4 linked regions of the Homo sapiens genome follow. The protein of the gene in region 2 interacts with the protein of the main gene of each other region in a pairwise test. Each region holds a gene or a part of one and is shown on either strand. Other genes may lie near its edges.

What was found.
Region 1: the proteins of KCNH1 (region 2) and KCNC1 interact in a two-hybrid assay, tested with the Homo sapiens proteins (one study listed by BioGRID).
Region 3: the proteins of KCNH1 (region 2) and KCNB1 interact in a two-hybrid assay, tested with the Homo sapiens proteins (one study listed by BioGRID).
Region 4: the proteins of KCNH1 (region 2) and FASTKD5 interact in binary tests that used the Homo sapiens proteins (3 or more experiments, as listed by UniProt).

Annotation. Positions count from the first base shown.
Region 1 is NC_000011.10:17,730,653-17,737,826, reverse strand, and holds the start of KCNC1 (voltage-gated potassium channel KCNC1), read right to left. Parts: upstream 3,047-7,174; 5' UTR 1,825-3,046; coding exon 1,255-1,824; intron 1-1,254.
Region 2 is NC_000001.11:210,682,828-210,690,172, forward strand, and holds part of KCNH1 (voltage-gated delayed rectifier potassium channel KCNH1), read right to left. Parts: intron 1,312-7,345; coding exon 454-1,311; 3' UTR 1-453. UniProt on the Homo sapiens protein: Pore-forming (alpha) subunit of a voltage-gated delayed rectifier potassium channel that mediates outward-rectifying potassium currents which, on depolarization, reaches a steady-state level and do not inactivate.
Region 3 is NC_000020.11:49,479,519-49,487,277, forward strand, and holds the start of KCNB1 (potassium voltage-gated channel subfamily B member 1), read right to left. Parts: upstream 3,151-7,759; 5' UTR 2,963-3,150; coding exon 2,396-2,962; intron 1-2,395. UniProt on the Homo sapiens protein: Voltage-gated potassium channel that mediates transmembrane potassium transport in excitable membranes, primarily in the brain, but also in the pancreas and cardiovascular system.
Region 4 is NC_000020.11:3,156,797-3,164,912, forward strand, and holds the start of FASTKD5 (FAST kinase domain-containing protein 5, mitochondrial), read right to left. Parts: upstream 3,070-8,116; 5' UTR 2,970-3,069; intron 1-2,969. Other genes in the region: LZTS3 (leucine zipper putative tumor suppressor 3), read right to left, coding at 7,658-8,116. UniProt on the Homo sapiens protein: Plays an important role in the processing of non-canonical mitochondrial mRNA precursors.

The sequences.
Region 1 (7,174 bases), on a different chromosome or scaffold from region 2:
CGCAGGAGGGGAGAGATGCGGAGTAAAAGACAGCAGGGCAGAGGCAGTGCTTTGCCTGGTAGGGGGTGAGGGCAGCTCAGGGATGCAGGAGGGGCTCTGCTTTAAATTCTCTACTCTGCCCTTCCCCCACAGGCCTTAGGGTCTCTCTTTAGGCCTCTAAGGACAGAGCCCAGTGAAGGCTGGGAGTGTCTCTTCCAGGGTGGGTGGCTGCTACCAGTTCCTCTTTTTGGGCTCAGTCACTGATGTTCCAGCAGCAAGGCCCTTAAGAGTTCACCAGGCCCCCTCCCCCATTTTACAGATAAGGAAACTGATCCAGAGAGGCCATCTGAGGGACCAAGGTCAGCAGCAGCGTGTCCTTTCTTCCTAGGAACAAGCTGGTATGGCTATAGGGGAGTGGCCCATGAAGACACGCCCACCTCTCACACACCTTCTCCTTGCAGGTTCCCCCTTAAGGACCCTTAAGGACCGACCCCCTCTCCCCACCACGGGATGTCCCAGAGGAAGCACTGGCATAAGCCCAGTGACCCACTCCAACACCCTCCGCTTTCGACAAGGAGGAAGGACAGGCTGTGATCTCAGGATCGGGGGCTCAGACGGACCACCCCTACCTTACAGCCCAGCCCTCCACCAACTTCCAAGCCACCGAGATTAGCCATGGAGATGCCCTCTTGACCACTTCCTCAAAATTGCCGGAGGCTGCTCCCTGAGGAGGGGGTGTCTGTCTCAAGCTGCCCAGCAGGCCTCAGGCCTTTTTGGGGGACCATGGCTGGCTCCAGATGCGCCTTTACCTGGACAGGAGGAAGGGCTCCCAGCTTCCCTCCCCACACTGAAATCTCGAGAGCAGTCCATACTTTGACAGTGCACCTCTGCAAAGACACAAATGTTCACGGGCAGGCGCTCATGCACACTCGAACATACACACATGCTCACTCATTCCCACTCCACACTTTACCCACCCAAATACACACCACCACACTTACATAAATATGCACACACAATCTACTCATACACACAAACACACCCATTCATACTCATACATATTAAACTTGGCAACACACAGACTGACATACATAGAAAACCAGAACCCCGGCGGACACCCTTCCTCTCTTACCCTGGTACGTGCACACATGCGCACACACCCCCTTTCGATTCTGAACTCCCTAGGCGCCAGTTCTCCGGTCCACCCCTGCCCGCGGGGAGGCACAGGACGCTGCCTTCCCGCCCCGCTCTTCTGATGGGTAAATTGTCACTTACCCGCGCGTAGCGGGACGAGTACGGGTCCTCGAAGAGCGCCCAGATGCGCGGCTGCCAGCGGCGCCAAAAGCCGCCAGGCCGGCCATCCGGGGAGTCACTGAGCGCCAGGCGCTTGGTCATCTCCAGCTCGTCCTCGCCGTCGCCCGAGTCGCCAGGGCCGTCGGCGTCCGCGTCGTCGGCGCTGTTGTCCAGAGGAGCGCCGCCGAAGCTGTCCAGAGCCTCCTCGGCGTCGCGGTGCTGGCGGTACGTCATCCAGCAGCAGGGCTCCACGTCGGTCTCGTCGATGCCCCAGAAGGCCAGCTCCTCCTCGTAGAGCGGCCCGCACACGTCGGCTGGGCAGTGCAGCTTGCCCGTGCGGTAGTAGTTCAGGATGTGCGCGAAGACGCCGGGGTGGCGGTCGAAGAAGAACTCGTCAGCACGCGGGTCATAGTCGAAGTGGCTGTGGGCGTCGGGCTCCGCCAGCCAGGCGAGCCGCGTGCCGGGCAGCGTGCGCAGGGTCGAGCGGTACGTCTGGTGGCGCGTGCCGCCCACGTTGATCACGATGCGCTCGCTCTCGTCCCCTTGGCCCATCGCGGCGCCCCCTTAGGCATGGCGCGGCCCAGCGACACCCATGGGAGCGGCCGCCAGGGGGAGTTGGCGCCGGGGAGGGGGGCGCGCGCCCTCTTCCCCCCTCCCCCCAGCCGTCGGGGGGAACAGAGGCCTGCGGCTCTGGCCACCCCAACGAGCGAGCCAAGCCTCTCCGGGCGCTTTGTCGGGTGCCGGTCCAGGGGAATGTGCGCGGGATCCCAGGGGTCTCTAGGAGCCAGATGTGGGAGGGAGCTGGTCCGGCAGCGGAGGAGGCAGAGGAGGAAAGAAGGGAGGGAGAAAGGGAGGGAGAAAGGGAGGGAGGGAGGGAGTGAGGGGGAAAGAGGGAGGGGGGCGGGCTCAGCAGCGAGCCCCGGGAGGTGGGGAAAATGGGTTGGGGGGCCGGGCTCCCGTCCCCATCTCCGCGGGAAAATGGAGAAATCGGCACAAAGCTTTTGGGGGAAAGGTCAGCCGCTCCCGGGGCCGGACTAGAGGCCAGCCCCCAGGAGGGGGAGGGGAGGAGACAGGGCCGGGAAATTCGCGCTCCTCTGTGAGGTGGTCGCCGCGGCGCGCTCTCGGCGCGGGGGAGATGGATGCCGCCTGCCTTCCTCCCTGCGTGGCCGGGCTGCAGCTCGGGACGCAGGGCGGGCTCCGGCCCCCTCCCTCTCTCCTTGCTTGGCTGCCTGCTCCCCCCGGCGGCGGGCCCGCCTGCCCGCCCGCCCTCCTCGTTCCTTCTCCCCGCCTCCTGGAGGAGATGGCGGGCCCCCTGGGCAGGGGCACCCGGGGTGTTGCTCGTGCGGCTAACGCCGAGCGCTGCTCTCCGTGAGCCCGGGCTCGAGCTGGGGTTCCGCTGGGCTGCGCTCGGACTTGGGCTCCCGCGGCGGTGCTGAAGGGACAGCTCCCGGCGGTCGCGGAGCTGCACGGGGCCAGGCGGGGGTTCTCCTGGCTGGGTTTGATTTGCGGGGCCGGCGGGCACTGGCTCCGGTGCCTCTGCGCCCCGCACTCCGCTCCTCGCTTCGGGCAGGCGGTGGGCGCTGCCGGCCGAGACGGGGGCTGCGGAGGTCGGGCGGGGAGGCGGGGGTGGCGGGTCCGGGCGCGGCGAGGTGAGGCCAGCGAGGCCGGTGAGGCGAGGCGCGGAGCGGCCGCTGCCGCCGCCGCCGCGACGCTGCTGCCGCCCGGGCTGCTGCTCCGCTTGCTGCTCGCCCGTCGCCTGCTCGTTCGCGCGGTCCGCGTCCAGCCCGCCGCTCTCCGGACACGGGCACACGGCGCGCGCAGCCGCACTCGCCCCCGGAGGAAGGCGCCGCGCTGGGTCCTAAAAAGCCCTGATTCCGCGCCCCCCTCCCAGCCCCGCACCGAGCCCGGCCTCCCTCAACCTCGGCGCTGGGGGCGCCCGCCCCGCGCGGCTCCTGCTGCTCCCGGGGGACCCGCCCACGGTCCGCCCTCGGGGAACGCCACTCCAGGGGCGGGGGCTCCGAGAGACGTCTGGGCCCGCGCCCCCGGGTCAGACTGAGGTGAGAAGGGCGTTGGCACCCTCCCCTTGCCTTCCAAACCAGGGACCATCTGATCCCTGGTGAGACAAAGCTCTCCCGGAGTTTTGTCATCAGAGACACCCTGGCCCGGACCAGTGCTGACCGCTCCAAGGAATCCTTTAATACCGACCCTTCTCGCGGAACCTGGAGGCCCCATGTTCCTTCCATGGGTAATGTCTTGCATGAACCCCAACACACACACACACACACACACACCACGTTATCCTCTACGCCCTCCACTAACAATCAATCCTGGACCCCTATTAACCCCTTTGGACTCCTTACTGACCCTGGGCCCTTTATAGCTTCAGACAGAGGGAGTCTCCCATGAGTGCCACATCCATCCAAGCTCACGGACTCTCCCACACTAACCCTGGATCCCTAGGTGGAGACCCCTTATGAAAAGGACCTTCTGCCCTCAGAGGTCAGAAGCAGCAACTGCTCGTAGTTTCCCTGAGCACTGACACCCCCACCCCGCACTTCCTAGGGCTTCAACTGCCCTGGGTGATAAGCTGGTGTTATGTCTGGGAGCTGGGTGGGAGCTGCTGCTTGCTGTGATTCCTCCATCTTCACAGTTGGTCCTGGGGGTGGGAGTTCCAGTTTGAACCTCAAAGCCTTCCTGGCCCATGCCTGCTGCTAGTGCCTTGGTTTACTCAGTAAAGCAATCACTCCTTTACTCCTTACTTGTTTCAGGATCCGTCCCAGGCACAAGGACACAAGAGATGAATCTGACCCAGCCTCTGGCCTTGAGAAGCTCCCAGCCTTCTGGGGAGGTGGCCAGGTGGGCCTAGGCAGGACTGGGGAGGTCAGGCCCGTCTCCAGGGGTGGCTGGGGTGGGAAAGAGGCTTATTGATCCCAGCTCAACCCAATCGAACACAGGATGCCTGGGCAAAGGGCGATTTAATTAAGAAGATATGAGGCTTTTATTACTGCTGGCACTTTCTAACTGTGCAGACAGCTGTCCCTCTACCCTGACCCACAGATGCCGTTGTGAGCCTGGGGACAAAGCTGTGCCACAGACATCGCTCTCCTTACTTGGCCAGGGGAATCCCAATCTAGCCACAGGAAAATCTGTGTGTGGTGGGTAAAAGGCTTGAAGGGGTGGAGAGGGGCAGGGCAAGGATTGACAGATGGGAATAGGACAAGGGGAGAGACAGAGAGGCTAAATTAAGTCAGAAATGGGCAGAGTTGGGCAGAGACAAAGAGAGGGTTGGATTTTGGGGCCTGCATGGCACCTCCTCCCTCCAGATATTGATCTGTGTGATTCCTCTAAATAGGAGCTGTTTCCCCTTCAATCTCAGAGTAATGCAGGGATGAGAGTGATTTTGAGTGTCCCTTTCACCCTGACCAGTGTGAGTCCCCATCTCCTAACCACAAGGAAGCCTGGCCTGGTGTGGCCCGGCCTGGTGTGGCCCATCCTGGCCCATATTCAGATCCCCGGGACATGGGTTCTCAGGAAATTCTGTCCCAACATTGGTAGAAGATGAAATAGAAATGGAGAATCCAGAAGGAAGAGAAAAAGGTGGACACAGAGGCAGACACATACACACACACACACACACACACACACACACACACACACACACACACACAGCTGGGAGAAATCAAGATGGGGAGAGACAAGAAAGCAGCCTCTCCAAACCTTCCTTTCTTTCTACCCAGATGTCCAGCCCCTCTTCTCACCCAAGAATCTTCTGGGATTCTACTAGCCATAGGGTTCCAGGACTTCACCTCTCTCTTCACCTGCAGAACCACACGGGATCAGAGTATGGCTCCTGATCTTCTCCATAGCTCATCTGATCTCCATAAAAGGACCATCAGCTCCTCCAGGGCTTCTTGTTTGCTTCCCTCCAGAGTGCCCAGAATACAGTAGATCCTCACTAAGGTCCAGATGATTTGAGAAAGGCTAGGAGAGAGGCTGGGATCCTAGAACCCAAGTGGCAGAGACTGTGGGAGTCTGGAACACCTAATGGAGACCAAGTCAGGAGGAGGGACTTACCCAGGGTTTTTTAGGGAATCAGTGCAGGGCCCCATCACTACGCCATGGCGAGTCCTAATAGGGGGCTGCAGTGTGACCCAGGCAGTTGGGGAGGGGGCACAGAGAGACAGAGAGAAACAAGGGGCTCCTGGTAGGCAGAAGGTTGGGTGATTAGGGGCTCTGGACGATGTGTTAGAAAGAGGGAGGTAGGCCAGGGTTGGAGGCAGAAGGAATGTGAAAGGGTATTCATTGCACCCTAAAGCCCATTACACCCTAAAATCCCCCAAGAGGTAAGCAGAGAAAACTCAGACACAGGAGCCTCCCCAGCAGGAGAGGGTAGCTGTTCCCAATGTGCCCCACACTGTTCCACTTTAGGATTCTCACTTTGATCCCTGATGACACACCCCCAGCCCAGGCCCCAAAGAATGGCCTCCCTTGTGGATCCTGAACAGGACATCAAACTTTCTTCTCTCACTTCCCCTTCACACTGCGAGAATGCTAGCATTTGCAAACAGCCTAGGAAAACCAAGAGGGCAACACAGAAGAAATCAACAAAAACCAAAAACCAGAAAACAGAGAAACAGAGGGTTTTGGGGGGAAATAGGAGGAAGAATGACTAACCATTCCCTAGCTTCTCACTCGCAAACACTAACGACAGACCCCCAGCTAGACTGAAAACCTCACTCCTTTTCCACTTTGGAGCAGCACCTCCTATTCGCAGCCATTTGCCCCTCCCTTGCAGAAGAAAGCTTGTGGTCTGGTGCCAGAGGGTCTTTGGTAGCTGGGGCTGGTGGGGGTGGGAGCAGTTGTGGTGTGGTATGTTCAGTGGCTAAGAGCACAGACTTTAAAACCAGACTGCCTGGATTCAAATCCCAGCTCCAGTACTGACTAGCTGTGACCTTGGGCAAGTTACTCAACTTCTCTGTGCCTCGTTTTTTGCTTTTACTGTTGTATTGAAATAATAATAATAACTCCTGTATCCTTAACATCTAAGTTCTAGAATTTCTCTTGTTTAGGCCCAAGGAGGGATTGCTGGGCTTCAGTAAGCTTCATGTAGGAAAGGCTAGAATATAAGCTGGTGTTGGGAGTGGACTAAAAAAAAGGTGAAGGGAGTTCTGAAGCCAAGTTTGGCCTATGTTTTCCCACCTGGCACTTGCAGGCCTTAGATCTGGTCCTGCTAAGCTCTGGAACTGGCCCAAGTCCAGCCCCTAGGCTTTTGTCCAGGTTGGCACATCCTCCATGCTGCTCTCCCAGGCCCAGAGCCTCAGCCCTCCTGGTGGGCTGGGGTGCCATCTTGTGGCCATGGCTGGGAACTAACCTAAGCTGGGTATTGACCGAGAAGGCTTTGAGGATAGTAACCCTGCTCTGATGGTAAGCCGTGGGGGTGGCAGACATCCCCTCCCTAGACCATACCGCCTGCCTCCAATGGTCAGGGAAGATTGAATCCAGAGATGCCGTAGTGGGAAATTGGCGACCTTGGCCACAGATCTGTAGGTTGAGCAGTGACCCTGGTAACCTGGGCTGAGCTGCAGCGAGGTATACAGCTAGCTGTTCCTTCTTGGAAACTCTGGGGCAGGGGCACCAACATGGCTTAGGCCATGGGAAGTCCAGAAAGGGGCCAAGGTGAAGAATACTCTTGGAAGGTGTCTAGACCAGGGTTTCTCAACTTCTGCACTGTTGACATCTTGGCTCAGATGTAATCCTTTGCCAGGGTTGGGGCCGGGTGCTGTACTGTGCATTGCAGGATATTTAGCAGGCCTCTGTCCACTAGGTGTCGGTAGAAGCCTCTTCCCTAGCAGTGATCACCAAAAAGGTCTACAGACACTGCCAAATGTACCCTGGGAGGTAA
Region 2 (7,345 bases):
GGACGGGGATGCCGGGAAGTCCTTGGCCCACTGCAGTCCATGGGGGGTCTTGGCAAAGGAGCCCAGCATAGTATATACATGAGAGGTTCTCGGCACTTTCCCACCAGTCCCCAGATGGCTGCTGCTCTGTTCTGGTAGTTTTAATCTTTTACAAATATCATGGTAGTAAAAAATTAAAAATGAAGGAAAATACCCTTTAGACAGCATGTCCCTTCTTCCAAAATTGTGCAAAGACGGTTCAGATGCAGCTGCCACCTTGCAGGGTAGGGGCACGCTACCCTTCCCATATCTTTTTCCAGATAGAGAAAGAGCACGTCTAAGCCACTGGCCCCACTTTTTCTGTTAGGAAAAGCCTACTTGAAAATTGTTGGTCATGTGGACATATGTGGTAGGGGTGGTGGTGACGGCAGGGTTGGAGGTATCTGTCTCTGACTTTTTTTTTAAATAGACCTCTCAGCTGGCTCCAAAAATGTCTCTCTCTGATTCTGGGGACTGTGGCCTCGATATTTCAAACAACTCCTGAGGAGACTGAGAGGATCTTCTGGAAGTTAATATCCTGAGTATCTCAGAGAGCTGTTTCTCAATATTGGTCATTTTGGCGTTTAAGGCCTTGATGTCCTCCTTCAGCTCGTGCCTCACCTCCAGGACTGTGGCCTGCAGCGTCTGCTCAGGGATGGGGTAGAACGAATGCTTGACCTCTGCCAGGATGGGACTCCGATCCTGGGGACTCCTGGCCTCACCCACGTTGTCCAGGCGCAAGTCGCTCTTGGTGATGCCACTGTCACACGAGTCTGTCTTCTTCAGTGTGGCCTCGCCTGACGCTTTTGTCCTCTCGGGAAGTGTCTCCATCGACTCAGCCTTGGACACCTTGTTCCAGTCCTCACTCTTCCCGCAAGCATCTTTGAAGCGGGCCCAGCTTTTGCGCTTGGCACAATCGCCCCCGCCCCCCTTGGGGCCCAGGCACTCGGACCCTGGCGCCTGTAGCTTTGCGTGGTCTGGCACCCCGGAGGTGGAGGCTGCCTGGAAGGATACGGGCGTGGCAGGACTCTCACGCACGGTGACCACGCTGGCCTTCACGAGGCTGTGGTTGGCGGAGGCATGCTCTGTAAGGACATTGCCCTTCTCCACATCTAGGTCATCCAGGTCCCGGCCCCCTCTCTCAGCTGCCAGCCTGGCCTCTTTCTGCTGTCGGAATCTCTGGAAGAGGCGCCGGACAGGGTGGTCCGGGGGCAAGATCAGGGGGGCCTCATTCTTTCGTTTCATGCGTTCTTCCTCTTCACGTTTCACATCGCTGATCTTCCGGAACACAATCTGGAGAGAGAGAGAGAGAGAATGACATGGCGTGTTAGCCACATGCTGGCTGCAGCAGCCCAGCTCAGCCCTTCTGCCTATCTTGGCCCTCTGCTTCCAGTCCACCTGCCACCAAGAGGCTGGGGCTCACAGCCTACAAGGCCTCATGAGGCTTTTCTCTATGACTGACATCACCCTCCTTTTCTTGACACTGGCTCCCAGCTTTCCAACAGCAGGGAATTGACTCCCTTTGTCATTCCCTTCAAGAGGAACACATCCCATTTTTTCCCCTCTCCACATGCCAGGAGGCTGAAGAATCCAAAGAGCATCTTCCCAGGGGACTGTCCTAGCCTCTGTGCCTGGCCTCCCTTAAATCCATCCTTGTCTGCAATTCAGCAGCATCTGATGAGCCTTTCAAATATCACTTTTCTGGCCCCACTTCAGACCTACTCCATTAGTATCTCTGCACAAAAGTTTGAGCATCTCTGGCCTAAAACCACACTTCAGGGCAAGAAAGTCCCCAGGCAAGGCTACAGCTAAGGTTTCCAATGCCACCCACAGATCTGGACCCTAAGTGAATGTGGTTGGCTGTGAAAAGTAAAAGTCATTCTCACACGGAAGTCCTTGTCTTGGGGAGCTTACAGTAGACTAACATCTGTAAAGTTGAACATAAACTTGTCCTAACAATAATACCCATCACTTGGACAGTGCTTTGCAGGTCACAAGGCACTTTAATGCTACTTCATGTATTCCTTTTGACAGCACTGTAAGGTCACTGGAACAACTGTTATTATCCCCATTTCAGAGATAAGGTAAACCACAGCTCAGGGTGGCTAAATATCACATAACAGGTAAGTTGCCTAGAAGGGACTTGTACCCAAGGTATCAAACCCCAGATCCGTTAGGTGGCCAGCAGGTAATGACTAATGGTGACAATACTTCACGCAGAGGATGGACCATCAGCAAAACAGACTCATGAATTTGGCCCTGAGTGCAGCATAAGCCACAGCTTACAGGGCCTTCCCCTGGGTCAGCATCTGACTATGGGAAAGCCCCAAAATTTCTAGCTTACATTGCATGTGGCAGTTAGACTCTGGGACGTGTTTTGACCCATATCATGTTTGAATTCGTGAGAGGCAACCTGCAATAGGTTGTCTTTTTAGTGTAAATTTCTGATTTGAGGACTAGAGGTATTGAGATTGTGTAGAATTAGAGGAGAGGCCTGCGGTAAGGGAGAACAGCAGCTTTCTCATCATCCAATCTGGAAAACTCTGTGCCCTGGGCAGGCCACTTAGACCCACCCAAAACCTGTCCCAGGGACTTGCCACAGGACCGCCAGTCTTGGGGAGGCACACGTGGTGGCATGCCAGGAGCAGGGGTTTGGGGTCAGAAAGAACTAAGTTTAAGTCCCAGCCCCATTACTTGACTGTGGAACCTCACAGAGGTATCTTAACTTCTGAGTCTCAGCTTCCTCCTTAAAAAGTGAGGAAAATCTCTACTTTTCAGACTTGGTATAAAGCTGATACAAGATGACTTATATGAAATCACTGGCCCACTGGAGATGCTTAAATGGCTCCTGTTGTCCTTGACCTTTCACAGCCCCCAGATGAAGATGACAAGCAACTCACCCTACCTCCTCCAAGAGGCCCTGCCCCATGCTATCACCAGCAGGTTCTCAGGTATGACCAACAAGATGATTGTTTTATAGTGCCCAACACAGAGAAGCCAAATAAACGGTTAATTGCTTGATGCTAGGAATCCATCAGCAAATCGCTGGCAGACTAGAGGCCCACGTCTATGCTCTAACTTCTTGGTTAAAGTTTCTGTCACTGGCTGACTTTACACTGAGGTCACTACACAGGTGGATGGATGGTTAAATCTTCCAGCTATTACCTGGGTTCCAGTATGTGGCTTTCTGACCTCCACTGGGCAGCATTTCTCCCATCCCTGCCTCCTCTGGTCCCCTCCTTAGCTGTACCCCAACTGCCCCTATAGTCTGCCTTGCAGATCCAAGAAATGGGACTCAGGAGAATCCTGTCCACCCTGAAGAGGGCCAGAGAAACCCAACTAAAGGCCTCATGGGGGATGGGAAAGTGATAAGTAGAGTGATTGGGACCCTTTTCACTCTGTGCTCTGAGTTGGATGCCTCTGTACACACTGTGCTCTGTTCTGGGAATGGCCTCTGCTCTCCATTGAGCATCCAAATCCTGTTCACACCAAGACCCAGCGCAAATGCACCTCTTCCAGAAAGTCTTCCCTGATTCCAATGTGCTCTAAGTTATCCTCCTACCTCCCAACTCCAATGGCCCTTTCTATGGTCAGACTGTTCTTCTGTCCTAGTTACTCTCTATCTTTTATCTATTTGTAGTAGGGAGGCCAACTTTCTTCTGCCTACTCACATGCCTTCTTAGAGAGGAGAGGAGAGAATAAGGGAATAGGAAGGAAGGTGGAATGGAGGGAAGGAATGCAGAAAAGGGGAAGGAGAGAAATGGGTGAGAATGTGAATGTACCCAAGAGAGATGATGGCTTTTAGAGCTCATTGCTCTTTTCCTGCCCTTTATATCTGCAGGATATCTGATTCCTAACACTATCCCCCTTTTTCACTTGAGCAAGTTTGGGTGAGTCTATTCCTTGTAAGCAACAATTCCTGAACACAAACATATCTTATCCCCCTAAAAGGTCCCTGAGGGTTTAGAACAGTACTTTGGAGGTCACACTGTATTTTTTACTTTTTAAATTTTTGCTTATTATTTGCCCTAAAAGAGCAATGATTTTCCATTTTGTTCCCAATTTCCAGCTGTTTGAAGTGCCTGGTACCTAGCAGGCCCTCAGTAAATATTTGTGGAATGTAGAACACATAAATATTGGCTAATGAATCCGTGGGAGAATATCTTCTTCCTGGAAAGAAGAAATCACAGAGGTCATAGTCAATGTTATAAAAAGCAGGGTTTGGCCTGGACACACATCTCCCTCAACATCAAAGGTCAGGGGCAGCCTCTGAGACTTGAGATGTTCTAAGACTTATGAAAAGGAAGTTCTTCAGATATTGAGGAGTCAACGCAAAACGGATCCCAAGAGGCTGTACAGCAAAGGCTTAACATAATTCATGGTGGACATTTGGGAGGGGAAGTGGGAGTTCCTCTTTGAGGGTGTGGCTATATTGTGCTTGTCACCCAGAGGCCCCATGGGTCAGAATCCTGGACTGAACCAGCCAGCGTATTCAGGTGTTCTGACTGAGTGGTCGACGTGGGCAGTTCAGACACTCAATGACAGGGCCTGTTGGTGGAACCATGGGTCTCTGGATCTGTGCAGGCTTTTTTTCCAAAGTGTCATCTTAGGCTGCCCTCCATCATCCTGTGTGCTAGGCAGCCCCCTGAACATCACTGTCTCAACCAATGGACAGGTGAGCCAGGGACGAGCTTCCTACCCTGCAGAAATGCCTGGTTCTTCCTTTGAGAATCAGAGGGGTAAAACCAGCAACCCCCAGGGGACAAGGCAAAAGGAGTTTTTACAGAGCTGATGTGGTCTGACAGCTTTGCTGACCTGGAGTCAAGGGCTCTGCTTACTAACTTCGACTGCTTTTCTGGAGAAGTTAGTCACGGAGTCTGTCTCAGAGGCAGCCATGACCACGCATTTTGCCAAGTATTTTAGATCTAAGTGGGCAGGAGTGGTTGTATGACTCATGACAATGAGGTCTGTGCCACCAGCACCAGCCACAGCAGCTCTCCGTCTGCTTGGAGATGCTCCACAGCTCCCCATGGCAAGAGTGTATCCTGGGAACGATGGGCATGACTCCCAACTCCCTAACTCAGGATGCTCCCTGTACTGGACAGGTGATGGATGGAGGTCTAGGGAACAAGTGTGTCCAAAGTATTCCATGATGCTCTAATAGGTACTATGAGGGGGAAAAGTTCCAAGGTTAGGTAAGTTTGAGTCACACTGCAATGTTAAATGGGTTGCTTTACTGCAGGACTTCTCAGAGCCTTAACATGCTAATGTGCCTTACGAATGTCTAAGGGGAAGACATTATATGCAGCATTTCTTAAGCCAGTTCCCCCAGATCCACTCTTTTGAATGAAAGAACCCCGTCTGGAAAACACTAAAATTATATCAATGTGTAGGGTATAGGATGCTCTCTGTATTTGTGTATAGCCCTAACAGATGGTCAGTTGTTTCCTGTTCCAACTGAAGGGGACCTCTTGTCTCTAACTCATTCACTGAACCCCTGGAATTTGAGATTTGAGGACTCCATTGCAGATGCATTACCCCCTGGTGGACAGGCCAGGATCAATCCAAACTTTGTGGCTATAGCCATCCCCCTGTTTGTGAAGCCAAAAGAAGTGATGCATATTGCCCTCCCTCCAAAAATCTGCTTCTAATGTTTGTGGTTTAATGGGGAGAGAGAAAAAGAGATCACAGGTAACTTCTCTATGCACCACACATAGGCTCCTGAAGGATGGTGTGAAAATAAAACCCTAAAGGACTTCCATTTTTCACTCATCCTCATTGCAGGCTGACCTCATACTGATTTCATCATCTCTTCCTGGCTGATTTTATTTTTTGAACTCTTACATGAGCTCAGAGAGCTGACATTTAAAAGTACCCCTGAGATAAACATTTTTGCAATGAGGACAACTGCTCATTGGCTCTTGCCTTCTTTTTTCACATCACAGATCCTTAGTCAGGGACCACACCAACAGAGAGGTGCTGGGGTCTGTCTGGAGAGGTTGTTCCACTGCAAAAGGCCCAGCCCTGGTGATAGAAAACTACTCTGTTCCTGGCATGGGTTCAAGGCACTGGTAATGGGATAAGTCCAGATCCTTCCTGGATCCAGCTAGAGTCCTGCCAGCCCACAGGGGCATATATTTTTCTAGCCTGACATGTTGCTCAGAATGCTGAGAAGCTCATGACTTATTGCAACCTAGAGACAGAGGACACCTGGAGGGCAGGGATGCTGCTGTGCCTTGCTCATCCAACTTGGCATCCCTCTGAGGTCGCACCAAGCCAACAGCCCTGAGCCTGGGAAGACTTAAATGGTTGTTGAGCTGAATGGAATTGACACTCAGATCCTTAAGCTACAGGGATTTCTGAGTAATTATTTTCAACTTGGTTTGAAAAACCAATACCCCTGGAATCTGACGTGAGTCAGGATAGTCGACCACCTCTTCTGGGTTACATTAAAAGAAGGCCCAGCTCTTCTCGTGCCTAACCTGTTCTCCCCTTGGCCTGGTCCTAGCTAGAGTTTGAGGAGTTGTCCCCTTGGGGTCTCAGCAGCACGCATGGGGGAAAGGCAGGCCTAGGAGGGGAATGGACTTGCTGGTGTCCTGACAGCAAGACGATGTGGGGAGGGCACCCAAGTGGGAGCACATTTACTTAAAAGAACTCAGATTGTGGAATAAAAATACATATGTAATGTCAGTCCTCAGTGGTTTGCATAAATGAGCAGGGGCTGAGGTGTGAGTCATTGAAATCTATGGATGTATCAAAAAGGATTTAGATGATTTTCTCTTGGGTTCAGACACACGTCCCCAGTCTGAAATGCTCAGCAGTAGAAAGAGCACTGGCTTGGAGTGGTCCTAGCTCTGCCACTGACCAGTCACTGTGTGACCTTGGGAAAGTTATATCCTTCCTTGGTTGTATCAGATCAATGGTTCTGAAATCTGGCTACACGTCAGAACCCACTGAAGAGGTTCTCTAGTGAGTGAGAATTTCCCGTGGCAGGGCTAGAAACTGGCATTTGCAGCAAACTCCCAGGTGATTCTGACATGGGCAGCCTGACCCAGGTCTGCTGACCAGGCTCTCAGAACCCCTGGATGGATGGATGGTGAGGTCACTGCTACTCTGCTGTCCCCTGTGCATGGACTTGTGCTCACACATGAGCATGGCCACACACACCAGCTTCCTGTGCACCTCTCTGCCTGTACTCACACTTCCAGCCAGACTCAGCCCTCCTAGGTGCTGCCTGGGATTGGAGTGGGGGATGACCCTGGTGAGTCTCTCCCTCAGCCTCTGGTCCCTGAAGGATGACTAAGAGGAAACGCGCAGGCCCTGCAAC
Region 3 (7,759 bases), on a different chromosome or scaffold from region 2:
AACAGCAAGGCCAGTGGGGCTGGAGCCAAGTGAACCAGAGGAGATCAAAAGAGATGAGCCCAGAGAGGTCATGGGGGCCAGATTCTGCCTGGGCCTTGTATGCCAGGATGAAAAGTCTGAATTTTATTTTGAGTGTGATGGGAAACTTCTGGAGGATTTTAAGCAGATGAATAATGTGATCCAATTTACATTTTGAAAAGCTCACTTTGGCTGCTATGTGGGGAATGGATTGCAGGGGCAAAAGTGGAAGCCGGGAGACTGGGGAGGAGGCTGCGGCACTTGATCATTATAGAAAGAACACTCGGTTTGGATTTCTGGCTACTCCTGACTGCCTGTGGTGTGACCTTAGGCAAGTTACTTAACCTCTTTCAGCCTCACTGTTTGCGAAAGGTGGGATAATAACAGAGCTGCGTTGTTACACTCCATACACAGTAGGTGTTTGATCATTGGCAGCCAGGATTTCTATTCTGAGGGCCAGTGAGCCTGCCTCCCTCCCCATTTCAGCTCTGGCTACAGAAAATCCTAGATGGTCCATCTGCCAGGAATGTGAGCTGGCAGCCCCAGACTGGGATCATGGAGAGGTCACAAGGCTGTCCCTGCTAGCGGATTAACCCAAGGGAGAGGAGAGGTTCTTTATTCCCAAACAGCACCTCTTGCAAGCCCCGGTGCTTGGGTCTTGCTGCCAGACCAAAACATGGCCCTGTGCCTGCTTCTTCTCTGGGAGGGCAAATTGTCCAGTTCCCTGTACCTTGTTCTCATGTCTTAGGGATGGGACAGGGAGGGAGAGTCACATTTGGGCCTAAATGGGATGTGCAGTGGGAGAACCTGTGTCATGCCTGGAAATAGCAAAATAAGTCTGTTGATCCTAAGCTGATTAAGGGTGAGTGACTCTGTCTTAGGAGGAGGCTTTTTGGACACAAAATTGGGGGCGGGATTATGGAGAGAGACAGCCCACAGCCTCAGAGGAGGAAGCCAGGCCCAGGAGCCTCTACATCCTTGTTAGGGCCAACAGGGAAACGAAAAAAACACGTGGGGGCTCCCTCCACCCTCTTACCAGCCACCCCTTCTCCATCCACTCTCAGGGGCCTCTCCTTGGGTGGCTAGATCTGGAGGAAGGACCCCACGGAGTCTCCCTTCAGACTGGGACCTGCAGGTGGGCCTTCAGTGAGAACTGAGCCGGAGACCCCACAATGAAAGGCTGGGCTGGACAGGAGTCAGCCCTAGCTAGTAAGATATGGCTGGATATTTAGGCTTCCTCCTCTCCTCTTTCTTTTACCACAAATCTACTTACCTGACCCCTTTTTTTAGGCCCCACACTCAGTTACATTCTCCCCATGTTTCCCAAGTTGGTCTTGCTGGATTTCAACATCAACATCTCTCTTTTCTGGGTTCTCCGTGAACCTCACAGAACCTCTTTTATAGCCTTGCACACACTGTTTTGTCATTTGCTCCCAGCACCCAGCACTTCGGGCACATGAAGACAGGCCCCATCTTTCCCAGGCAACCCCAAATCCCAGCCTGACGTAGAGAAGTTGCTGATCAACCAGTGCCCTCCTGCCCTGCCTTGGCTCCCACCCCAAGCCTTCCTCAGTCCCCTACAGCCCCTGCCATTACCCAGCAGCACCAAAGACTCTCTGGCCCACTCTTTGTGTTCAAACTCATTCCTGCCTCCTCCTCCTCCTCCTCCTTTATTTTTCACATTGCCTCATTTTTCTCTCCTATTTTGAAATTTACATCTTGTTCCAAGAGCTGAAACATCTTTACAAGCTGCACCAAACCATTCTGGAAATAAACTCACCAAATAAATAAGTAACCAGGGGGTGACCCCTCACCCGCAAGCATCCACAACCAACTGCATGTGTCGTGTGGGTCCACACCCACCCCTCGGGGTCCCTTCTTACTTATGTTTAAACTATCTGACAGTATCTCAATGTCCTGTAAGCATGTCTGTAAGCTGCTTTTTTCCCTTGCTGGGGCAGAGTGAGGTTATAAATATGGAGATATTAAAATCACAGGGTGATCCAATCCAGCCTAGGTCTGGGACTTCACAGGGAAGCAAACCCTACTCCACCCCAGCAAGCCACTGTTGTCTCTCTGTGCTCTCTCTCTTATTCGTCAGTGTCCATCTTCTTGCTGTGGCTTTTTATGGGTCCCTGTGAAACCTCTCCAACCAAGTAGGGGTATAACGTCTTGGATAATAAAAAGATGGAGTGACCAGTGCCACATGGGAAAAGTCTGAGGGGGTTGGTCCTCACCTCTGGGGACTCAGTCCTAGCCCCTCCCCATTACTAATCTTCATCGTTGGGAACAAAGCCAGAGTCCTCCAGCAGTGGTCCTCAATATGGGGATGCAAGCAGATCCCCCCAGACCAGCAGCCCCCAGATCCCAGACTCACCTTGGCAGCCACAGAGGAATTGGGCTTCTCCAGTAGGTCCCAGAGTTTTTTCCTCTTCTCTGCGCAGCACGTGTTATCGAACTCCTCGCCTTCCCGCTCCCGTAGGGTCTCGGCCTCACGCTTGAGCTCCTCGTTCATCTGCTCTTTCTTCTGGTGGTAGCGGGCCTGGCAGCAGGACTCCAGGTAGATCTCGTCGATGCCCCAGTAGTCGAGCTCTTGGCTGAAGCTGAGCGCGCACATCTCCTCCATCATGTGCAGTCGCCCAGTGCGGTAGAAGTTGAGGATGGAGGTGAAGGCGCCCGGGTGGCGGTCAAAGAAGTACTCGTTGTCGTCGAGGCTGTAGTCATCGCACACCTCGAGCAGCGAGTCGTGCGTGTTGCAGTCGCGGAGCTTGCCCAGCCGCGTGCGGGGCAGGCGGTCCAGGGTACGCCAGAGTACCTCGTGCGCCAGCCCCCCGACGTTGAGGCGGACCCGCCGAGAGCACGCCTTGCTGCGCACGATCTCCATGGGCTCGGGCGGCAGCGAGCTGGTGGAGCGGGAGCCATGCTTCGTCATGCCCGCCGGCATCGCTGATCCGGCCGCCCCCGCCCCCCCTGCCCCCCCAGGCCGCTGTCACTCGACGGCAAGGCCCGCTGCTGCGGGGGAGGGGGGCAGGGAGCGCTGTGGGCTGCTGGGGGTGCAGGGGGCCCCGCGGGCGCGCGTCACGGCCGTCTTCTCACCTCCATCCCGACGGCTGCGAGGCAGAAAGCGAAAGCGGACGCGGGTCAGCAAACGGGGAGCTGGGCATGCTGTCCCCCCGCCCCCCACCTCTCCACCAGGCTCCCAGCCGGCCTTGACCTTCCCCCGCGCTTAAGCGGCTCAGTGGGGTAGGACGGATGGTCGCTGTCCCTCCCGCCGGTGCTGAAGTCCGCCGCACCCCATGGATGGAGGGAGGGGCCGCCCCTCGGGGCGGGGAGAGGGCCCCAAGAGATGCCCCTGGAGCCCGGGAGGCCCCACCCTGGGCTTCTGCGGCCCAGGCGCGACCCAGCCGCCCGGGGCGCTGTCCGCCCCTTAGAGTGCTGAAACTCTCTTCATTATGGGTCTCCCGATCGAGTCCCGAACCTGGCCCCGCCATGGGGAGAGAGGGGGAGCTGCATGAAAACTTTCTTTCTTTATCTTTTTCTTTCTTTCTTCTTCTTCTTTCCTTCTTTTTTTTTTTTTTAACGAGTTCTCTTCTTTTCCTTCCCCTTCTCGAGATAATCAAGATTTTGGGGGTGGGGGAATGGCAGCGGGCTTTTTTCCAAATCTTAAAAGATTTGGGGGAATTCCGGGGGTTCCAGGTGCCCACCTGTCCGAGGTCACAACAGACGGGGTGTGCACAACAGCCCCTCTGTCCTGGAGCGACCCCTCTTCCCAAACACTGGAGCATCTCCTGAGATTGCTCCAGCGACAAGGTGAGCCGCGAGGAGGAAAAGCCCGCTCTCGCCTCTCCCTCTGAGCCCCCAACCCTACCGCAGGAGGGGCGGGCAGAGTCCTCGGGATCCGCCTGCTCCGTCCTCCCCTCGCTCCTTCCCCGCCCCCTTCTCCTCCTTCTCCTCCCCCTCCTCTTCCTTCTCCCCCTCCTCCTCCTCTTCCTCCTCCTCCTCCTCCTCCTCCTACTCCTCCTCCTCGTTCCTCTCCCGCGATGGCTTTTTATAACTCCGGGTTCTGCGCCTTTCCCCGGGCTTGGAAGGGAAGGGGTGGGGGAGGTGGGAGGCGGGGAAATGAGCTAAATTTTCTGGCCTTTTCAAAAGGTGCCATCCTCCTACCGCGCACTAGTGATTTCGGGGGGTTCCCCTGAGCACCCCCTGCATGTAGGGCTCACGCCTTAGCCCCAGAATGGGGATTGCGCGTCCCCTCAGGCCTCAGCCCTTGCCTGCCTCCCACCCCGCTCCCCTCCAGCCTGGAGCTGCGGAGCCCGAGCAGACCAACAGGCCGAGCTGCGGCAGGCAAACCCCCTGTCCGTGTCCCCATGCACCCCCACGGAAGGCCGTACGCCCCAACACTCACCCCCAGGGCGGCCGCCTCCTGGGGCCAGGGACCGCGCATCGTCCCGGCCGCCCGGGCGCCCCCGCCCGTGGGCAGCGGCGGTCCCGGGGCCGGGCTGAGCCGGGCCTACCCCGGCCGGGCAGGCAACTCGCCCGGGCTGCAGGCGCCGCGGGGCCGGGGCGCGCTCTCCGAGGCGGGGGGCGCCGGCGGGCGCCGGGGGCGCGGGGGCAGGACCGCGGCCGCGCGGCACCTCCTCCACCTCCTCCTCCTCCTGCTCCCGCGGCGGCGGCGGCGGCGGCTGCCTGGGCGAGATCAACAAGTCGGGGCTGAGCTTCGGCTCCGCGCTCGCTGCTATTCTGTCCCGCACTTCGGAGCGCCCGGAGCCGGGCACCAAGGCAGGACGGCGCCACCTGCGGGTCGGAAGCGAGCGCGGCTTAACTCCTGCCTGCCCGGCCCAGCCTGCCGGGGAGGCCGGGGGCGGGCTCCGGGATCGGGCCAAGGAGACGCGCGTGGCCGTGCATCCCTCTCCACCCAGGCCACCTGCACAGCTGGCCTCGCGATCCCGCCTTCCTTCGTCCCGTCAACAACGTGTGTTGAACGCCTCCTGTGCGCGAGCCGCGGTGCAGGGCACGGTGACAGGCGTCTGAGATACAGCTGTGAATCAAACACAAACATCCGGCCCTCGTGGAGCTGGTTGGAAACAGATCATAAACAAAAAAGCGAAAGGATATATGAGGCGGTGACAAGCGCTGGGGGAAATAATGAAACAGGAGGAAGGGTCAGAGGGTGGGAGGGGGCAGATCGGAACTGTAAATAGCCCTTGCTTTCATGAGCTTCCATTCTAGATTTTAGCGGGGGGTCGGGGGTGGGGGACGGAGGCGGACAATGAATACATCAGTACATATGCAATGTGGCAGGTGGTGATAACCGCTAAGAAGAAAAATAAAGCGAGGTATGGGGAAGAGAGGGTGAAGAGTGAGCTGGTTTATATAGTCTGGTGATTCATTCATTCATTCATTCATTCATTTATTCATGTTAAGTTGGACATCTGGTTATTGACAGCTTCCTATGTGCAAGCAGAATGCCAGGCTCCGTGAAGGGAAAGTCTTCCCCCTGGAGCTCCCCATCCAGTGGGGGAGGCAAAACCCATCACATAATCCCAGAAATGAAAACTGGAGGAGGTACCTGGAGAGGCAGGCAAGGGTTCTCTAAGGATGCCACAGATGGGCCTTGTGTTTACTCATTTATTCTTTCAAATATTCATTTACTGCATGATAAGTAAATAGGTGTCAGCGGCCGGGCACAGTGGCTCATGCCTGTAATCTCAGCACTTTGGGAGACTGAGGCGGGAGGATGGCTTGAGCCCAGGAGTTGGAGACCAGCCTGGGCAACATAGTGAGACCCATCTCTGCCAAAAAATAAAAAATTAGCTGGGCATGGTGCTGCTTACCTGTGGTCTCAGCTACTCAGGAGGCTGAGGCAGGAGGATCACTTGAGCCCAGGAGGTCAAAGCCACTATAAGCTGTGATTGCACCTCTGCATTTCAGCCTGGATAACAAAGTGAGACCCTGTTGCAAAAAAAAAAAAAGAAAAAAAAAAGTGCCGGGGATGGGTACAGCAGTGAGCTCCCCTGCCCTGGAGGACAAAAACTGAACAAGATACAGTGTTCCAACACAGGTTCCTCTCTGGCCCTTTTCTTCCTTTCTAAAATTAAGGGGTTCATTTCCATAATTTCCATAGAGTTGCACATAATATTATTATATATTTTTTACTTGTCCACTTATCATCTCCACCATCATGACCCTTGTCCAAGGTACCATCGTCTTGTCTCCCTGCAACCTCCCTGCAACTTGGCTCCCATCTTGGCCTCATCCCTGGCTCCCATGCCTGGCTCCCATCTTGGCCTCCTACAGTTCATTCTCCCCATGGCCACCAAAACAACTGCTACATTTCATGGACCATGAAATGTTGGACCATGTTTCTCATCTGCTTAAAACCTTCCCAAGACTTTCCCTTGCTTTAGACTAAAACCTAAACTTCTGGCCTATTGCCCTAATTCAGCCCGCCCCCCTTTCTGAGCTTGTAGACCAGTGGAGGAAGACAGGTAACTAAAAAAGTAAATTTTTAAAGAGAGAGTTTCAGGCTACAGTGATTGTTATAAAGGAAATGGAACATCATGATGGGGTGGAAAAAGAGAGACCAAGCTGCTAGTGTTACACAGGGTGGTCAGGAAGGGTGTCTCAGAGGAGATTAATAGAGATTGAAAGATAAGAAGGGACTAGCCATGGGGAGAATGAGGGAAATGCATTCCAGGTGGAGGAAACAGCAAGTGCAAATGACCTGGGGTGTGAGAGACAGTGAACAATCACATTCCCTCCTGCTTCAGTCTGGTGTTCCTAGGGTCAGAAAGGGTTCTCAGCTGGCCCCTCTGTAAGCCTAATCTGTTGAAGGCAACTTTTCTCCAGAGATCTGGGCATTCCCACAGGAGGTTTCAGAAAGCAATAAATCCTTCCTGATGAGAGGGAAAAAATGACTCTATAATGGTGAAATTTCCAGGCATTACTGCAGGCATTACGGTGCCTTCCAGGTACAGCTAAAATAACACCTAGAAGTGCGGTTCTTCTCTACTCCATATAACCAAGGAGTGGAGATGCATGTTTGTTGGGCACCTACTACAAGTAGTCCTCTGAAGGTATAACATCCATCAGCTTCCACATCTGTAAATAAGAGATGAGGTTATTTATAGATGTGGAAGCTAAAGCTCCGAGAGAAGGTGTCTTGCCCAATATCTTGCTGGCAAGTGCTGGCACAACCAGATATGGGAATCTCTTGTTTGACTCCAAAATCAACGGGCTATCCAAATACCAGAGCAGCCTCTCTGCAAAGTCCTTTCTCCATCAGTTCATTTATTGATTAATGGAATCATTCCAGATGTTTACTGAGCATCTACTGTGTGCCTCAGCATGGGTGTTGGTGCTGGGAATTGAGGGTGAGTAATTTATATGGTCCCTGTCCTCGTGGAGCCACACACCTCTCTTGCCAAGGCCAGGAACAGACAGAAAACCTTGTTACTTGTTTTTCTTCTGTATTGTTTTTTTCATTTTTAAATTCCCTTTTATCTGCATTCCCCTCCCACTAGCCCATAGGAAATGGTTGTCATGTGTCAACCGTATATTGTTTTGTTTGGGTTTGTTTTTGCTTTTGCTTTTAGAGATCGGGACTCACTCTGTCATCCAGGTTGGAGTGCAGTGGCATGATCATGGCTCATTGCAACCTAAAACTCCTGGGCTCAAGTGAACCTTCTGCCTCGGCCTCCCAAAATGTTGGGATTACAGGTGTGAGCCACTGCGCCCGGCC
Region 4 (8,116 bases), on a different chromosome or scaffold from region 2:
ACTGAGTATAAGACACCTTAAACACATACAATTTACCACTTACCAGATCTGATCCCTCAATTCTAACACTTTTCCTTTCTATGTCCCAATAAAATTGCCACAAATAAATGAACACTCCAACCCTATTCTTGTCTCAGCAAATAATTTGTTGAGCAACCTTAAGAATTAAAAAGGCAAAAAAACTGGCTAGACAGGTGGCTCATGACCATAATCCCAGCACTTTGGAAGGCCGAGCAGGCAGATCACGTGAGGCCAGGAGTTCAAGACCAGTCTGGGCTACATGGCGAGACCCTGTCTCTACCAAAAAAAAAGGGCAAAAAAACCGAACTTTCTCTAGGTGCTGAGGTATTCTGCTGAGAATCTACAAAACTTCAAAGCCCCTAGTGAGGGCTTAGAGACTGGCAGTAAGGACCTTAGCTGTTAATGTGGATGTTAACTGGGCTAGACTCTTCTGTGTTTCTGTTTCCACACGGGAGCAGGGCCTCAGAGAGGAGTCTACCAGTACTGCGAAGGTGAAGCACTAGTGCAAAGGTGTTTAGGTCAAGTTCAGTGTCACTCGCAGGTCTAAGCCAAACTAAAATTATTCAGTCTAGCAATCCATCCCTTCCTTTTTGTTCTAGACTCCATGCTGATAGGAGAAAAACAGCACATCACAAACATTTGTGAAACTTTTTCAGCTACACAGCCCTTCCGCTTCTCTTTTAAGACTCTGCTATTCCTCTATCAGAATGGCAAGAAGGATGTGGGTAGATATAGTATGACTAAGCCCTGTAGATGATTCTGTTAGAGCTACTGCTTTTAAAGGGTTTCATAAAACCCTGTCTTTAGAAAACCTCTCCATATAACAACAGGCAGTAGGCACTCATGTCCTCTCAGCCCATCTAAATGGGGCTTCTAGAGGAATTACAAAATCCAGGCAGGTAAAGAGAAGTAGCTGCATGCACACAGTCGTCATAAGAGAAAATTCCCAAATAAATGGTCCAAGTACCTATAACTGTTAGCTCAATAAACACTTGGTTTTATCTGCTTTTACAATTTGCAAGGCTGTATAGAGGCTGTATAGTACATACTTCAGACAAATAAAGAAGGAGTTTCAGAATTCTTTTGTTTTTTTTTTCAGACAGGGTCTCGCTCTGTTGTTCAGTCTGGAGGGCAGTGGTGCAATCTCCGCTCACTGCATCCTCGACCACTGCCCCCCACCTCTCACCCCGGCAACCTCCCGGGCGAGGATCGCTCAAGGATCTCAAACGATCCTCCCACCTCAGCCTCCTAAGTAGCTTGGACTACAAGCCCACCACCACGCCTGGCTACATTTTGTTTTTTTGTGTGTTTTTTTTGTTTTTTGTTTTTTTCGTAGAGACAGAGTTTCCCTATGTTGCCCCCAGGTTGGTCTCGAACTCCTGGGCTCAAGTAATCCTTCCACTTCGGCCTCCCAAAGTGCTGGGATTACAGGCATGAGCCACCGCACCTGACCTTAGAATTATTTTATATCAAAGTTGACTTATTCACATGATGAATGGCAAGGCCTTATTAGGGACTAAAAAAATAAACCAATGGATGGGGAAGAAAATCATACTGACTAATAAACATTAGACCTGCATAACTGCCAAAGGCCTCACTTTTTAAGTTATGTTATGCAGCACAGAGTCTTCAGATTTTATTTACTTATTTATTTATTTATTTATTCATTTATTTGAGACGGACTCTCGCTCTCTCGCCCAGGCTGGAGTGCAGTGGCGCGATCTCGGCTCACTGCACACTCCGCCTCCCGGGGTTCACGCCACGCTCCTGCCTCAGCCTCCAGAGTAGCTGGGACTACAGGCGCCCGCCACCACGCCCAGCTATTTTTTTGTATTTTTAGTAGAGACGGGGTTTCACCATATTAGCCAAGATGGTCTCGATCTCCTGACCTCGTGATCCGCCCGCCTTGACCTCCCAAAGTGCTGGGATTACAGGCGTGAGCCACTGTGTCCGGCCCAGATTTTATTTTAGTCTACCAGGTAGTAGCAAACTATCCAAGGACTTGCCCAGGACCATTCAGGTCAGTGAGCTACAGAATCTAGTTCTGGAAAGGCAGCCATTCTTACTATTCACAAAGTGTAGAAAACGTGAATTCAGATTCCAGCAGCAACAAATGACTGGAGCACAAAACGCCAGCCACAGTTGGTGCTAACGCAGCTGGCTATCAGCTCCACAGGATGAAGCACTGTCCAAGGGTCTGATCAGTGAAGCATCACCCAAGACTGATGAACACAGCTGATATGAGGGGACCCAAAGTTCCCTGAGTCAAGACAGAAGAGCTGTGTCACGGTTTGCACAGAAAGAGAAAGAGCAACTATTCTTACCCACGGAAAGAAAAAGGGAGAAGGCCATCAATACTACCCTTAGGCTTGTGCAACGAGAAACTGCTAAAAATGGGGGGAAGGTATATATCCTATCATACTGATGTTTACCGAAGACTCCGCATCCCAAATGCTAAGCAACATACTGTAGGGCCTTGCTACTCAGTGTGTGGTCTGCGTGCCAGAGGCTTCAGCCTCGTCTGGAATCTAGTTAGGAACACAGTTATCTCAGAACCCACCCCAGTCCTACAGAATCAGAATCTCTAAGCGATTCGCAGGCACATCAAAGTGTGATGAGAGGCGCGGCAGAATATCTGACTACATTCTCTTAACAGCACCGTGAGACAAGTACTGTTACGATCTCCATTTCACAGAGGAAAAAAAATCAAGGGTCAGATAAGCCCCCTGCCAAAGATCACAAACTCAGGAGCGGCGAGAGTCACTGAAGTTCTCACCACAGCCAGGCCTGCGAGAGGCACTGGCAACCCAGGCCAAGAGCTGAACAAGGCCTCGATGCGCTCCAGCTCTGGGCCGGCCGGGAGGACAGGAGGCACAGGCCAAGGCCCAGGACGGTCGTGAACGCGGAAAGAGGCCGCCGCGACCTCCTCCCCGGCCGCCGCCACTCACCTGATCCTCCCGAAGGTGGGCGCCGCAACACCAAACCGGGGACGCCGCGGGCGGCGGCGACACAGATACTGGCTCCTCCGGCGACTCCGAGCCTCACAGCCCCACTTCCGGCCAACTGCCCGCTACTTCCGCCTGCTGCGCGAGTGACGGATGCGGCCGAGGCTCAAAAGACTCTGTCAGCGTTTCCCAAGGACATTTTCCACTGGAGGACGTTGTTGAGGAGGCAGGGGGAGTCTAGGACCTGCAGAGGGAAAACACCTTCCTGGATGGATCGCTCTGGAAGTCATTAAGCAGCTTAGTCCCGGCGCGGTGGCTCACGCCTGTAATCCCAGTACTTTGGGAGGCCAAGGCGGGCGGATCACCTGAGTTCAGGAGTTCGAGACCAGCCTGGCTAACGTGGTGAAACCCCCGTCTCTACTAAAAATACAAAAATTAGCCGGGCGTGGTGGCGCACGCCTATAATCCAGCTATTCAGGAAGCGGAAGCAGGAGAGTCGCTTGAACCCGGGAGGCGGAGGTTGCAGTGAGCCGATATCTCGCCACTGTACTCCAGTCTGGGCACCCCTGTACTCCAGCTCTGGGACACAGAGCGAGACTCCATCTAAAAAAAAAAAAAAAAAAAAAAAAGTAAGTAGCTTAGACACATGTTCAAATCTGAGGACCACCACTCAGGGTTTTATGGCCTTGGAGAAGTCACATAAATTCATTCTTGTTATATTATTATTATTATTTTCATAGAGACGGGGATGGCAGTGTCTTCCTATGTTGCCCAGGCTAGTCTCGAACTCCTGGGCTCATGCAATACTGCCGCCTCAGCCTCCGAAAGTACTGGGATTACAGGTATGAGCCATCGCACCCGGCCCACATAAATTCTCTAAGCCTGTACAGTGAGAAAAACAATACATTTTTTTTTTTTTTGAGACAAAGTCTTGCCCCATTGCCCAGGCTGGGGTGCAATGGTGCAATCATGGCTCACTGCAGCCTCAACCTCCTGGGTTCAAGTGATCCTCCTGCCTCAGCCTCCTGAGTAGCTAAGACCACAGGCATGCACCACCACACCTGTCTAATTTTAACAATGCATTGGTCGGGTGTGGTGGCTCACACCTGTAATCCCCGGTGTTGGAGACCGGCCTGGCCAACATGGTGAAACCTCGTCTCTACTAAAAATACAAAAAAAAATTAGCGGGGCATGGTGGCGTGCACCTGTAACCCCAGCTACTTGGGAGGCTAAGGCAGGAGAATCACTTGAACGCAGGAGGTAGAGGTTGCAGTGAGCCGAGATTGCACCACTGCACTCCAGCCGGGGCAACAGTGAGACTCCATCTTTTTTTTTTTTTAATGCATTTATAATAGAGATGTATCTGTAAAGTGCTCTCAGGAAAAGAGCTAGTGACATGATGGATAGATGAGCCTGCTGAGAGAAATGGATGTGGAGCTGGGGCTTAGCGAGGCCAGAGCTATGGAGCATGAGCCAGGGTGATTCTCCACCACCCTAAGAAGGAGGGCTGGGTCCTACTGGGTACATATATTGACACAGCTGTCAGTATAGGTACCTAGACAAGAAAGAGACTCTACTAAACCTCTACCTATCAGAAAGTCCTGGCCCCAGGCTGCCATTCCTGAGGGCACTTGAGATCTGCTGATCAGGGTCTTCATATCTTGTCAATGCCTTGGCTCTAAGGGGTGTGAAGGAGAGCTGAGAAATCATGCTCCCTCCAGGGCCTATCTTGTAGGGAAGACAAAATCAATGTAGGAAGAACACGTCCCTGCCAGGAGGGGCAAGCCTGACATCCCAACTCCTGAGCTCTGGAGACAGCGCTGTTTGAATATCTGGAGCCCCAGACCACAGACACCACTGCTTAGGGAGGGTTCTCTCCCTCAGGCCAGACCAGGGCAAACACTATTCATTGTTATGACTCTGTCCTTGCCAGTAGAACCCAGAGAAAGCAGAGAGCCTGCCCCCAAGGAATGAACCATGTTTGTTCCTAGGCAGCCATGACAATCCTGTTTCTCTTTGTAATACTCAAATTCCCATTCTCCCTTGAAGTGGGAGGAGCATGTGGCTCAGTTCTGGCCAACAGGACTTAAAGGGAAGGGTCCTGGGAGGGCTCTGGGAAAGCTTTTACTTTTCATGATAAAGTAGGGCCGCCTCAATGTCTTCATGGAGCTGTGGCAGCCACTTTGTGGTAAGGAGGGAACAACATGCCAAGGATGGAACAGTGGGAGGATGAAAATCTAGGTCCCCGAGGATCCAACAACCATGACACCACCTCCGGATTTCTTGTCAGGTTGGGGAAAAATAAACCACTCTTTGAGGTCCTTTGATTACTTACAGCAGAGTGCATTCTTGATTGTGTGCTTTGAGAGGATGACAGAGGAACTGTTGTAAAGGGAAGCTCTCTGCTGTGCAGCACGCTTGGGTCCCTTTTGCCTTTGGGGCTTCGCCATTAATTGCAAACCTGTTCCCAGTCTTCACTTCTATCCATTCAGCCCGCAAACATCTACCAGTTGCTGTAAGGTGGCTTAGGCGACTGCAGGCTGCATCTAGCTGTCCTGCGTCACCTGTTTTCTGGCTAGCAGCTTAGTGTCCAGATTCTGAGCTGGAGCCAGCTTTTAACCCCTTTGGCAACAGTCTGAGCTGAAGAGAAAGCCCCACTGGGCATATACATGGCACCACGACTCTTCCCGGGCAACGTGGCAGAACTTGGGCTTTGGGCCAACCTCCTAGCACGGCCCAGTGAGCACCTCCAGTCTCATGCCTCCTCTGGGAAATCTGTTTACTCCAGCTTTGCCCCCATCCCCCACCCGGGCCTCACCTCCCGCACCTGCAAAGACACAAGCAGGCCAAAGAATACCACTCAAGAGGCTTTTTCCGTTTTATTTCTTTGGGAAAGGAAAACAAAAAGTCTTTCCATCACATATGGTAGAGATATATATTTATATATATTTATATATAATTTCTTTTGTGGTTGGACGTCCCAAAGCTGAGTCTGTTCATATTTTTTTCTATTTTTTTCTTACTAATGCCTTCTCTTCTCCCTGCCCCTGTGGCCTAGGCCCAGGTTCTAGGGCAGGTACAGTGAGGGGTGAATGGAATGGGCAGTGGTCGCCAGGATGGCCTCCCACCCAGCTCAGAGACCTGGTGAGGACCACCCAGAAGGGCTGTGCAGAGGGTTAGAGGCCACACAGAGGGGCACTCATGTTTTTGTGGGGGATGCACAGCTCATTAAACAGTCACCAGTCATGGGAGGAGGCTGGTCAGGGGCTAGGGGACTTGCTCACAGTAGTTGCCAGCTCTCTCCACCTTGCCCCCCAAAACTCAGTCTTGGGGGTGGGAGGAAGAGAGTGAAAAAGAGAGAGATATAAGGGCTGAGGGCCAAGCCTCCTCCAATTTTTATTGCTGGTGAATTAGAAATTTGCTTTTCCCTTCCTGTCTTGGGGAGATAGACTCTGAGAGGGCCCCAAGAGAAGCAGCTGACATTGGCTGACCTAACCCCTCATGCCAGGCCTACCCTGGGCAGGTGCTGAGCCACCTCAGGGCGCCAGGAACCTCTCAGGTCAGCCTTGTTCTTCAAGGGCAATCACATCCAACTCTCCCCCCGCCCCCAAAACAAGGGCCTCCGGCTCAGACTTGGGCCAGTGGAGCTGGGAAGTGGGCAGTGCACCAAAGGTCAAGCGGAATTTTCTATTGGAAGAAAAGGTGAGACTTTGGGGAAGAGACTGCCTAGGAAGATGATGTGCTGAGCATGAAAGCAGAAAGAGGCTGGGGGAATAGAGTGCGGGAAGACATCGCAGACACTCGTCTGACCTCAGAAACTGGGCGAGGAGAGTGCCTGAGAGGCAGGTAGCACTTAATAGCTGTGTTAGAGCCGGACAGTGGTCCTGGGTGTGGGGTCAGCCAAGCAGATGGGGCTGTTGCCCTGCGGGATCCTGGCCAGAAGGGTGAGGGTAGAGCCGAGAAGCCGTCAGGCAACGCTTCCCAAGAACAGGAGGACAGATCTTCCCTGGGTGCTGGACTTCCAGCCCCAGTCCTCCCCTCCCGCAACACACACACAGGGACACACACTCACAACCAGGCCAGGCTCTGAGGCCTGAGTCCAAGAGATCTTGTTGGGGGAGGGGCTGGGCAGGTAGCCCTCTCAGCCAAAGGCAGGCCATCTGCTCCCACTTGTCCTGCCAATCTGCCCAGGGAGGGAGAGCACTGTAGGAGGGAGAGAGGTCTGGAGCCCAGGCTCTGTCAGTTTCAGCAAACCTGGTGCAGGCCCCCTCAGGCTCCATGGCCTAGGAGGTGAGCACAGAGAGCATCACTAGACACAGGGTGGCCAACAGTAGCAGCCCAGGCCTCCAGAAGGACTGGGGCACCTTATGGCACTGCACGTCTGCTGCCTCCATCTCCAACAAGGGGGTGCCGAGAAAGGGAGCATGACTCCCCCACCACCTAGGATTGCCCCCACTCACCCTGCCCTCCTCCTATTCCCTCCTTTTAGGGGGGTCCAAGTGGGCTGCCACGGGGGCAGTGCTGGAGCTAGGAGGGCAGGTGGGGAGGGAGGAACCTGGTCACAGCTGCTTAGAGAACCTCTTTGGTCTGGGGTTATGGGGTCTATGGGGAAGAGAGATGGAGGGGAGGGGACACTGGGGACTCTGGCCTTTTGACAGGACATGTGTCAAAATGCCGAGTGCCCAGGTCGATCAGATTTCTGTGGACTCAATGCGCTCGAGGCGGGAGGGGGTCCAGGCCTTCTTCTCCTCGCCATGCTGGGGAGTGGGCGTGCTTGCACCCCCTGCGGCCCCGCGCTCCCGCAGCCTGCGCTCCAGCTGCTGGTTGCGCTGGTACATCTCCACGTAGCTCAGCTGCAGCTGCTTCTGGTACTCGATCACCTTCTCCTTCTCCTCCAGCCACACGCGGCGCTCCTCGGCGAAGCTGGCACCCTGGCGCTCCCGGGCCCGCCGCTCAGCCGCCAGCTCGGCCTGCAGCCGCCCCACCTCCCGCCGCAGGGCCCGCGTCCCGCTCTCCCCGCCAGCCTCCGCCTCCCCGTCCACGGAAACCAAGGAGGCGGCAGCGGCCACCCCGGCCTGACGGCGCATCTTAGCCTCGTCGCTCTCGCAGGTGGCCAGAGCATCCTGTGGCTCGGCCGGGTCCACGGGGGT